2 separate regions of the Homo sapiens genome follow, and region 1 is reported to be linked to region 2. Evidence: microRNA targets listed by miRTarBase, many of them from high-throughput screens and not tested one by one. Region 2 holds a microRNA gene; the other region holds the end of a gene's coding sequence.

What was found. Region 2 holds the annotated microRNA hsa-miR-665 (ACCAGGAGGCUGAGGCCCCU, at 1,633-1,652, opposite strand). A microRNA usually pairs through its seed, bases 2 to 8, with sites in the 3' UTR of a target mRNA and lowers its output. Matches are read on the target gene's strand: a 7mer-m8 pairs with bases 2 to 8, a 7mer-A1 pairs with bases 2 to 7 and ends in A, and an 8mer does both.
Region 1: the mRNA of HIVEP3 is a reported target of hsa-miR-665. Seed matches in the 3' UTR shown: 8mer at 1,178-1,185, 7mer-m8 at 2,433-2,439 and 7mer-m8 at 2,808-2,814.

Annotation. Positions count from the first base shown.
Region 1 is chr1:41,506,535-41,510,913 of GRCh38, reverse strand. HIVEP3 (HIVEP zinc finger 3) reads left to right here. Exons shown (of 9, transcript NM_024503.5): 9 at 1-4,379. The coding sequence ends at 463. Among named protein-coding and RNA genes, the nearest start is that of EDN2, 24 kb to the right of the region's middle.
Region 2 is chr14:100,872,348-100,876,726 of GRCh38, reverse strand. It overlaps MIR665 (microRNA 665), which reads right to left and starts at 1,694; the gene lies at 1,623-1,694. It overlaps MIR337 (microRNA 337), which reads right to left and starts at 2,234; the gene lies at 2,142-2,234. RefSeq lists an enhancer at 2,886-3,055.

The DNA.
Region 1 (4,379 bases), not on the chromosome of region 2:
CGTGTCGCCTGTGGCTAAGGTCTCCAAATTCACACTCTCCTCAGAGCTGGAGGGCGGGGACTACCCCAAGGAGAGGGAGAGGACCGGCGGAGGCCCGGGCAGGCCTCCTGACTGGACACCCCATGGGACCGGGGCACCTGCAGAGCCCACACCCACGCACAGCCCCTGCACCCCACCCGACACCTTGCCCCGGCCGCCCCAGGGACGCCGGGCAGCGCAGTCCTGGAGCCCCCGCTTGGAGTCCCCGCGTGCACCGACCAACCCCGAGCCTTCTGCCACCCCGCCGCTGGACCGCAGCAGCTCTGTGGGCTGCCTGGCAGAGGCCTCTGCCCGCTTCCCAGCCCGGACGAGGAACCTCTCCGGGGAACCCAGGACCAGGCAGGACTCCCCCAAGCCCTCAGGAAGTGGGGAGCCCAGGGCACATCCACATCAGCCTGAGGACAGGGTTCCCCCCAACGCTTAGCCTCTCTCCAACTGCTTCAGCATCTGGCTTCCAGTGTCCAGCAACAGACGTTTCCAGCCACTTTCCTCGAATCATCCCACTTCCTCAGCCCCATCTGTCCCTCCGTCCAGGAGCTCTCACGGCCCCATCTGTTGTACCTTCCCATGTATGCAGTTACCTGTGCCTTTTTCTACACCTTTTGTTGCTTAAAAAGAAACAAAACAAATCACATACATACATTTAAAAAAAAAACAACAACCCACGAGGAGTCTGAGGCTGTGAATAGTTTATGGTTTTGGGGAAAGGCTGATGGTGAAGCCTCCTGACCCTCCCCGCTGTGGTTGGCAGCCACCCACCCCAGAGGCTGGCAGAGGGAAAGGGGTACACTGAGGGAGAAAGGAAAAGGAAACTTCAAACAATATAGAATTAAATGTAAAAGGAAGCACTCCTGTGTACAGATGCGATCAAGGTTCCTGTTTATTGCCACTTCACCCCCCTGCCCAGCTCGTAGCCACCCCTCTCTGCCAGCAGAAAGGCCAGTGTCCCCAGGCAGAGGGGCACAAACACAGGCAGGTGACCCCCACCCAGGCCCCAGCAGGCAGGCCCAGAAAAACTAATCTTTTCCTTTTTTTTTTTTTTTTTTTTTTTTGCAAGAAAATAAAATGATACTTTTCCTAGGATTTCAACACAAAATAATAGGTGCAGGTAGAAGGAGGAGGGCTGGCTCCCCAAGGGCTCCTGGATACTCTGGTAGTCTGAGTCATGGGCCCATCCTGGCACTCCACAGGTGGGCAGGCCACCCCACCCACGCACCCCCACTCCAGACACCTCCCTTCTGCACCCCACCCTGGCCCCCTGGGCTGGGGAAGGAGCCCTGACTGTCCGTCCCTGGCTCCCAAGCCCCTGACCGAGGCCTCACTCTCCTGTTGCCTCCTCTGTTCTAAAACCACCAAACCACCCACAAAGGCAGAAGTGGCAGGGCCCGAGCCCTAGCGGCCGTTCCTGAGACTGGGTTTTGGGTTTTGTTTCATCTTGGTCCCTGGGGTACAAGGGAGCCTGTTCCCCTCATGGCTGGGTTTTTCCAGTTCTCCACAGCAGAGGTTTGCGGGGAACTGTTTCAGGACCACTTTGCCACAGGACCGTTTCCCCCCGTCCCTGCCCCTGTCTCCACTACCCCAAGGAAATACCCACAACTGTGGCTGGTGGATACGGCCTGGACCTGTTTGCTGTCTTACACCTCTTTTTTAAAAAGAGAGAGGATGGTGTTTGATACTTCACCCAGCCACCACAGATTCTTTTGACCTAGAGGATTTTTGAATTGTCCTAACTCGTTGGAATTCTCCAAAGCAATCAGTGTGAGCCAGTGCCTCTTCCTTACCCACATCTCTACTTTCAAGAAGCTGCCCTGCATTTCCTGGGGCAAAACTCTACTTTGTAAGAAAAATAATAGGACCAGAAATTTAAATCCCAAATTGAACTATGGAACTTGAACTCTAGCGTGTTCGCCCCAACTGGGAGAGGTGAGCTTTTTCCCAGTGTTTCAGAACTGATTTTCTTTACTTTCTACAAGGGAGGGCAGCACAGGGACTACGGTTGAGGCCCGTGAAGGCTGGGTTTGATGCCACCCTATACAGAGCAGGGACCTCTCTGGCTAATCCCCAGTCCTCAGCCAGGCTGTGTGAATCAAGTGCCTGCCCCAGGGCTCTTGAGCTATTGAAGCTGCTTGGGTACAGGACACAGTAGGTGGGGAGGGTTAAGACCCTTCTGTGAGTTCCCTGTGCGGGGCTGTACTTGCCTCTTCCAATTCGTGGCCTTTCCCTGCTTGGTCCCTACTAGACAGACAAACCAGCCACAGTCCAGCCTGCAGCCAGACCACCTTGTTCACTCATTCTCCTTTGCCTCAGAGCTAAGACAAAAATGAGACAGAAGGCAGGGCTCCCTGGGAGTCCACTGTGCTCCAGGGTTCTGGGGAATCAGGGTTAGCCAGCAGCTCCTGGCTGCTTCCCTCAGAGACTAGGGCTCTCATCCTCCCCAAGAGAAGCAGCAAGCCCAGCCTGGACCACACTGTCCATATTGCTGGACAGTGGCCTGACAGAAAGTGACTCCTCCAAGTCCCAGGAGGCCAGGGCTTTTCTCATCCTTGCCTTTCAGCCCTAACCCATGGGACTGCCCACGGATTGGAGACTTCAAGGGCTGAGGTCTGGGAGCTGCATAAAGGGCATTGCTTCAGCCCAGGTTAGAAATCTGCCTGGGCAAGCTCTTCCTGCCCCAGACCTACAAAGCAGCAGACCGGGGGCTCTGGTGGACTAGCCCCTGACATTGGTGGGGGGCCCCACACCACTCCACCCCACCCTGCCTTCCAGCTCTCCTGGGCATTTTTCTCCCTGTACTCAAACAGCCTACCCACCCAAGGTTTCCTCCCTGGGCAGCCTAGCAATGAACAGTGCAGCCGGCAGGGCAGAGGCCCGGCAGTCACCGGGCCCGTCAGGCTCAGGCAGAGAAGCCACAGGGGCCAGGAGTCACTGGAGACTATTTCTAAATGATGGGGGTAAATGCACAAATAGAATCTCACCAAAGGGCTGCCTCCACATTGATGCCGTGCCCAGAGGGACAGAACCAATGCCACCAGCCTGGGTATATGTCACTGGGCACAGCTCTAACCCCCTCCTCCGGACTCTAGTCCCGCTCCTCTGCGCACAGAGCCCCCAGCCCACAGGTACACCTTCATGATTTGGAGAAAGACGCTCGCCCCATGCACGCCCTCCTCTGGGCCTTCTGCCCTGCTCCCAGTCACTTCCAAGCTTCCTGTTTGCCTGTGATGTTATTGTGCCTGTTGAGGGAAGCAGCAGAGGAGGCAGTGGCTGACTTGGCACAGATGCCTGCTACGTGCTCTGTTGAAATGCGCGGGGTGGCCATTCCTCGGTACAGACTAGTCCTGGTCCTTGGGTGTGGGCAGTGGGGGAGGAACCAACTGGTCGAGGTTTCAGAGCCAAACCTTGCCTTTGGTTGGTGAGTCCTTGCCCCCCAGGCCTGCGCTCCACGATGCCTTTCACCCTTGGCAATCTCAGGGCCATCCTGGGTAGTAACCCCACTCCTCTCTGCTCCCGCCCGCACCTGTGGCTCTCACTCTGGGCTCAACCCCTGCAACCCTCCAGGAGCCCGACAGCAGCCAGCTGCCTGCACTGTCGCCTCCGTAAGCTCCAACTTCCAGACCCAGAAGTCCCTCTGCTTCCCTCTGTTGGAAAAAGCCTAAAAGAATTAGCTTCCAGATTCCTCTAGCCCCTGCTCCATTCCCACCCAGTCCTTCTGAAGAGGAATGAGCAATACATCTGAGCTGGATTTCTCTCTAGTCCTTTCTCCAGACAAATCCTTCTTAAAGCAAAAGTCCTGGCTGAGCACCTGTCCTTGGGGACCGATCTGCCGTGTGACCAGGGGAAGAAAGTTCCCGAAAGCCTGTTCCACCAATTCTGCTTCTGTGTTGTGAATCCAGTCTGCTTTCCATTAGAAAACCGCTTCGGCACTTATGGTCACTTTAATAAATCTAGTATGTAAAAAAAGAAAGAAAGAAAAGAAACAGAAAAAAGAAACGTGCAGGCAAATGTAAAATACAATGCTCTCTGTAAGATAAATATTTGCCTTTTTTTCTAAAAGGTGTACGTATTCTGTATGTGAAATTGTCTGTAGAAAGTTTCTATGTTCTTAAATGGCAATACATTCCAAAAATTGTACTGTAGATATGTACAGCAACCGCACTGGGATGGGGTAGTTTTGCCTGTAATTTTATTTAAACTCCAGTTTCCACACTTGCATCTTGCAATGTTGGTATGGTATATATCAGTGCAAAAGAAAAAACAAAACAGAAACAAACAAAAAAAAAAAACAAAAATCCACGCAGGTCTAAAGCACAGAGTCTGACGTACAAAAGGAAAAATGCTCA
Region 2 (4,379 bases):
GTGGGAGGGGGTGAGGGATAAAAGTACAAACTGGGTTCAGTGTGTACTGCTCAGGTGATGGGTGCACGAGAATCTCACAAATCACCACCAAGGAACTTACTCATGTAACCAAACACCACCTGTTCCCCAAAACCTATGGAAATAAAAAATTCAAAAGAAAAATAATACAAACCTTTTTTTCTCCTGGGGAAAGAAAAAGGAAGGTTAATGTTAAATGTCATGCTGGGTTATGACATCATGGCCACCACAAAAAAAGGTGAAAACTCCTCTGAACAGCAGACAGCACAGCCTGGCGCGGACACTGGCACACAGGCCCACGGGACCTGGCGGGCCACAACTAAATGCACCCATCTTCCACCTTCTCTGTCCACCCCCAGGTCACTGATGTCAGGGGATGGAGGGAGCCCTGAGCTCCACTCCTGCTGAGTCTTGTCCATCAACCTCCCTTCCCGACCCAGCCCACCCCCATGAGATGCCCAACGTGCCAGCCTCCAGCCCTGGTGCACACAGGGCCAGTTTCTGGAACACTCAACAGCACACCACCCAGGCAGCTGAGGGCTACTCACCGCTCGGGTCCGGACTCGCTCATCCCTCCTGCAGGCGGCCCCAGGTCCAGTTAGGGCCTTGGACTCAGGCCCCCGTGCCAGGAGCTTGACCAGCTCTTAACAATCTGCCCAGGGCAGAGACGTGAGGTCCCCTCCTGCCCACCTGGTGACCCCGGTTGCTCCCAAAGTGAAAAAGAGAAAGACAACAAATAGAAGCCATCACCCCCACTCCCAAGCTCCACCCACCCGCTCAGAGCCCTGCTGCGGGGACGACAAGACCCTTGTCATGCCCCAAGCCCATGAGCACTGACCTCAGACCCAAACAGTAAGCCTCGTCCAGACCCCTGTCCACCTGTCTGAGATCAACAAAGACAAGCATACCCATCCTGACACCACAGAAGCTGAGGGGTAGACCAGGAAGGGAGCGGGTGCATGGGGGAAGCGGGGGTGAGGAAGGGGAGACGGGAGGTGGGAAGGAAGGGCAGGGGAGAGGGTGCTCCCTCCTGCAGGAAGGGAGGGGGTGCATTGGGGAGGAGGGGTGAGAAAGGGAAGATGGGAGGTGAGTGGGAAGGGCAGAGGTGAGGGTGCTCCCTCCTACAGGAAGAAGGGGTGCATGGGGAAGGAGGGGTGAGGAAGGGGAGATGGGATGTAAGTGGGAAGGGCAGAGGTGAGGATGCTCCCTCCTGCACCCTCTTGTCCTCTCTAATGGCCTCAGCTACTGCAAGGCCTCTCTCCCCACACTGGCTGCCCTGCTGCCCCGATGCTCATGCCTGGGCTGGCTGTCGTGGCTTGTTAATGGGGTTAATGATGCCAATATCACAGGGCTTGGTGCGGGTCACCTCTGCCATGCACAGGACCTGAGTTAGTCAGAGAGGCAGAAGACAGAGGTCCAAGAACCAGGGGCCACGGCCGTGCCCCCTGCTCATGTTGCCATTGGGCACCCTCAGGTACCCAGCCTGAGCAGGGTACGCACAGGGGAAGAAGGGAGCCCAGCTGACAGCTTCTGGGGACCCAGAGTTGGGAATCCTTGGGGAGAGGGGAAATGTCTCCAGAACAGGTTTAAGGAGAGAGTAAGAAGCCGCCTGTGAGGGGCCTCAGCCTCCTGGTCATGAAAGAGTCCTGGGTAGAGGCAGAGACCCCTCGAGGAGACCCTCCTCTTGGGGCACAGAAAGGGCCAGCCCTGGTCCGCCAAAGCCCCACCCCCTCCACCCTGGGCACAAAGGGGCACCATCTCTCCAACGTCTGTCCATCCATCCTGTGGGCCGGGTCCCTTTGGAGGGCTCTGTGTGGGAGCACAGCCCCAGCCCCTCAGTGGGAGAAGCCCCAGGGCTACCCAACTCCCCCTCCGGCCTATCTGCCCTTGGCTGTGGAGTCAGCCCAGGGGGTGTCCCACCAGGGGCATAGTTCCCTGCCAAGGAGGGGCCTCAGAGATGGCCCAGCCCCAGGCCCTCCCCTCCAGGAAGTCAGAGAGCTGCAGAAGAGAGAGAGAAGAGCCCAAGGAGCATGCCGGGAAGAGGCTGGCAGGACAGCAGCGGACTTGAGGACGCGTCCCCGTGCAGCCAAGGGTGCAGAGGAGGGTCCGGGGGCTGCGCGTGGTTGAAGGGGATGAAGAAAGGCATCATATAGGAGCTGGATAACTGTGCATCAACTCCTGTATGAAGCCGTTCCCACCCCCCAACTACTGACTACGGGCCGCAACCCTCCTCCCGGAAGCGCAGTGCAAGCGCTCGGATGGCAGAGGGGACGCCTGCTGCTAGTGGTTAGAGCAGTGACAGCAAGGGACAGCCAGCCTAGGCAGTGCCACCCACTGCTGGGCACCTGCAGCGCTGGGGTACCTGTCCACCCTGCCCAGCCTTGCCCTACCTGCCTCCTATGGCCAGGGCCTGGGCCTCCCTTAGCCCCACAGAGCCCCCAGGTGACTGTGCAGCCAGGCCAAGGGACGGAGGATGGGGAGGTGAAGGGGGAGACAGGCCTGATTCTGGCCCAGGTCTGTGAGTGGACATCGGGGACTCGACCCCACCCACCCACTGCTTTGACTCCCTGGTACTTCTCCAGCCTTGCCTTCTACATCTGTGAAATGGGTTGCAACAGGCACCTCTGGGGACCCAGTGAGGACTCATGAAGTCCAGGGGCACTTCAAGAATTTCCCAGAGACAGAAAGTAGATTTTTGGTTGCTGAGGGCTGGGGGGTGTGCATGGAGGGTGAAGGTGACAGCTGAAGGCTCTGGAGTTCTTTTGGGGGTGATGAAAATGATCTTAAATTGATTATGGTGATAGTTGCAGATATCTGTGAATAACTAAAACACACTTCGCTGTGAGCTTTAATGGGCGGATTGTGTGTATGTGGATTACATCTCAATAAAGTTGTACCCCAAAACACCTTCCTTTGTTCTTTGACATCTTTCTCAACCACCATACTGCCTGCCTCGTCCTACACTCTCCAGCCATCCACACCACCAACACACATGCACAGGGACACGCAGCCAGGCACGTGGTAGGTGGTGCAAAAATATCTGTGAGTAAATGACCTGATAATATAACATTCTCTGAAAGAGCCCATGGAGGGAAACCTTTAGGGAAAGGGGTTAAAGATTAAGAAGTAGGGGTGGCAGGAGGGTATGGAGGTGGGAAAGAGGCTCAGAGTGACACATGAATGGAAAAGGGGCTCAGATTGACAGACACATGGAGGGAGGAGGGGCTCCCTGTAACACATGGGTGGAGGAGGGGGCTGGTGTGACACACGGGTGGGGGAAGAGCTCCATGGGACACATGGGTGGAGGAGGGGGTTGGTGTGACCCATGGGTGGAGGAGGGGGCTGGTGTGACACATGGGTGGGGGGGGTTAGTGTGACACATGGGTGGAGGAGGGGGCTGGTGTGACACACGGGTGGGGGAAGAGCTCCATGTGACGCATGGGTGGAGAGGGGGTTGGTGTGACACATCAGTGGAGAGAGGGTTGGTGTGACACATGGGTGTGGAGAGGGGCTCCATGTCACATAAGTAAGGGAGGGGCTCAGGGCAATGCATGAGTGGGGGGAAGGTCTCTGGGTGATGCATGGGAAGGGGAGGACTTCAAGTGACATGTGAGAGAAGCTCAGGTGACACATTAGTAGGGAAAAGGCTCCTCATGACACATGAGTGAAGGAGAGGTGGAATGTGAGACAGAAAAGGGGCTCAGTGTGACGTGTGTGGGAAGAGAGTCTCTGTGTGACATATGGGGGGAAGGGACTTGGAGTAACACAAGAAAGGCGACTTGGTGTGACACGTGGGTGGGAAGAGTCTCTCTGTGACATATGGGGGCAGGGACTTGGAGTAACACAAGAAAGAGGACTTGATGTGACACGTGGGTGGGGGAAGATCTCACGGGACACAAGGTTGGGAAGAGATGCCCAGTGAGACACAAGGGTGCAGGGAGGGCTCCGCGTGTCAGAAGGAGTCCATGCAATACATCAGTGGAGGAGGAGCTCAGTACGACACGGGGTGGGAGAGCGGCTCAGTGTTATACATGCATGAGGTGAGGGGTCCATTCGACAAACGGGCAGGGGGTGCTGTGTGCCTTGTGAGTAGAGGAGGAGCTTCATGTGACATATGAGCAGGAAAGAACTCGGTGTAACACATGGACAGGGACAGGGGCTCCAGGTGACACATGAGTCAGGGAAGGGCTCTGAGTAACACATGTTGAAGAGAAACTCAATGTGATACATGGATGGGGAGAGGCATTCTGTATGACTTATGAGTGTGGGGAGAGACTACATGTGTGACACATGATTAGAGGAGGAACTTAGAGTGCAGCTGAATGGGTGGGGCTCCTAGTGACACACACGCAGAGGACAGG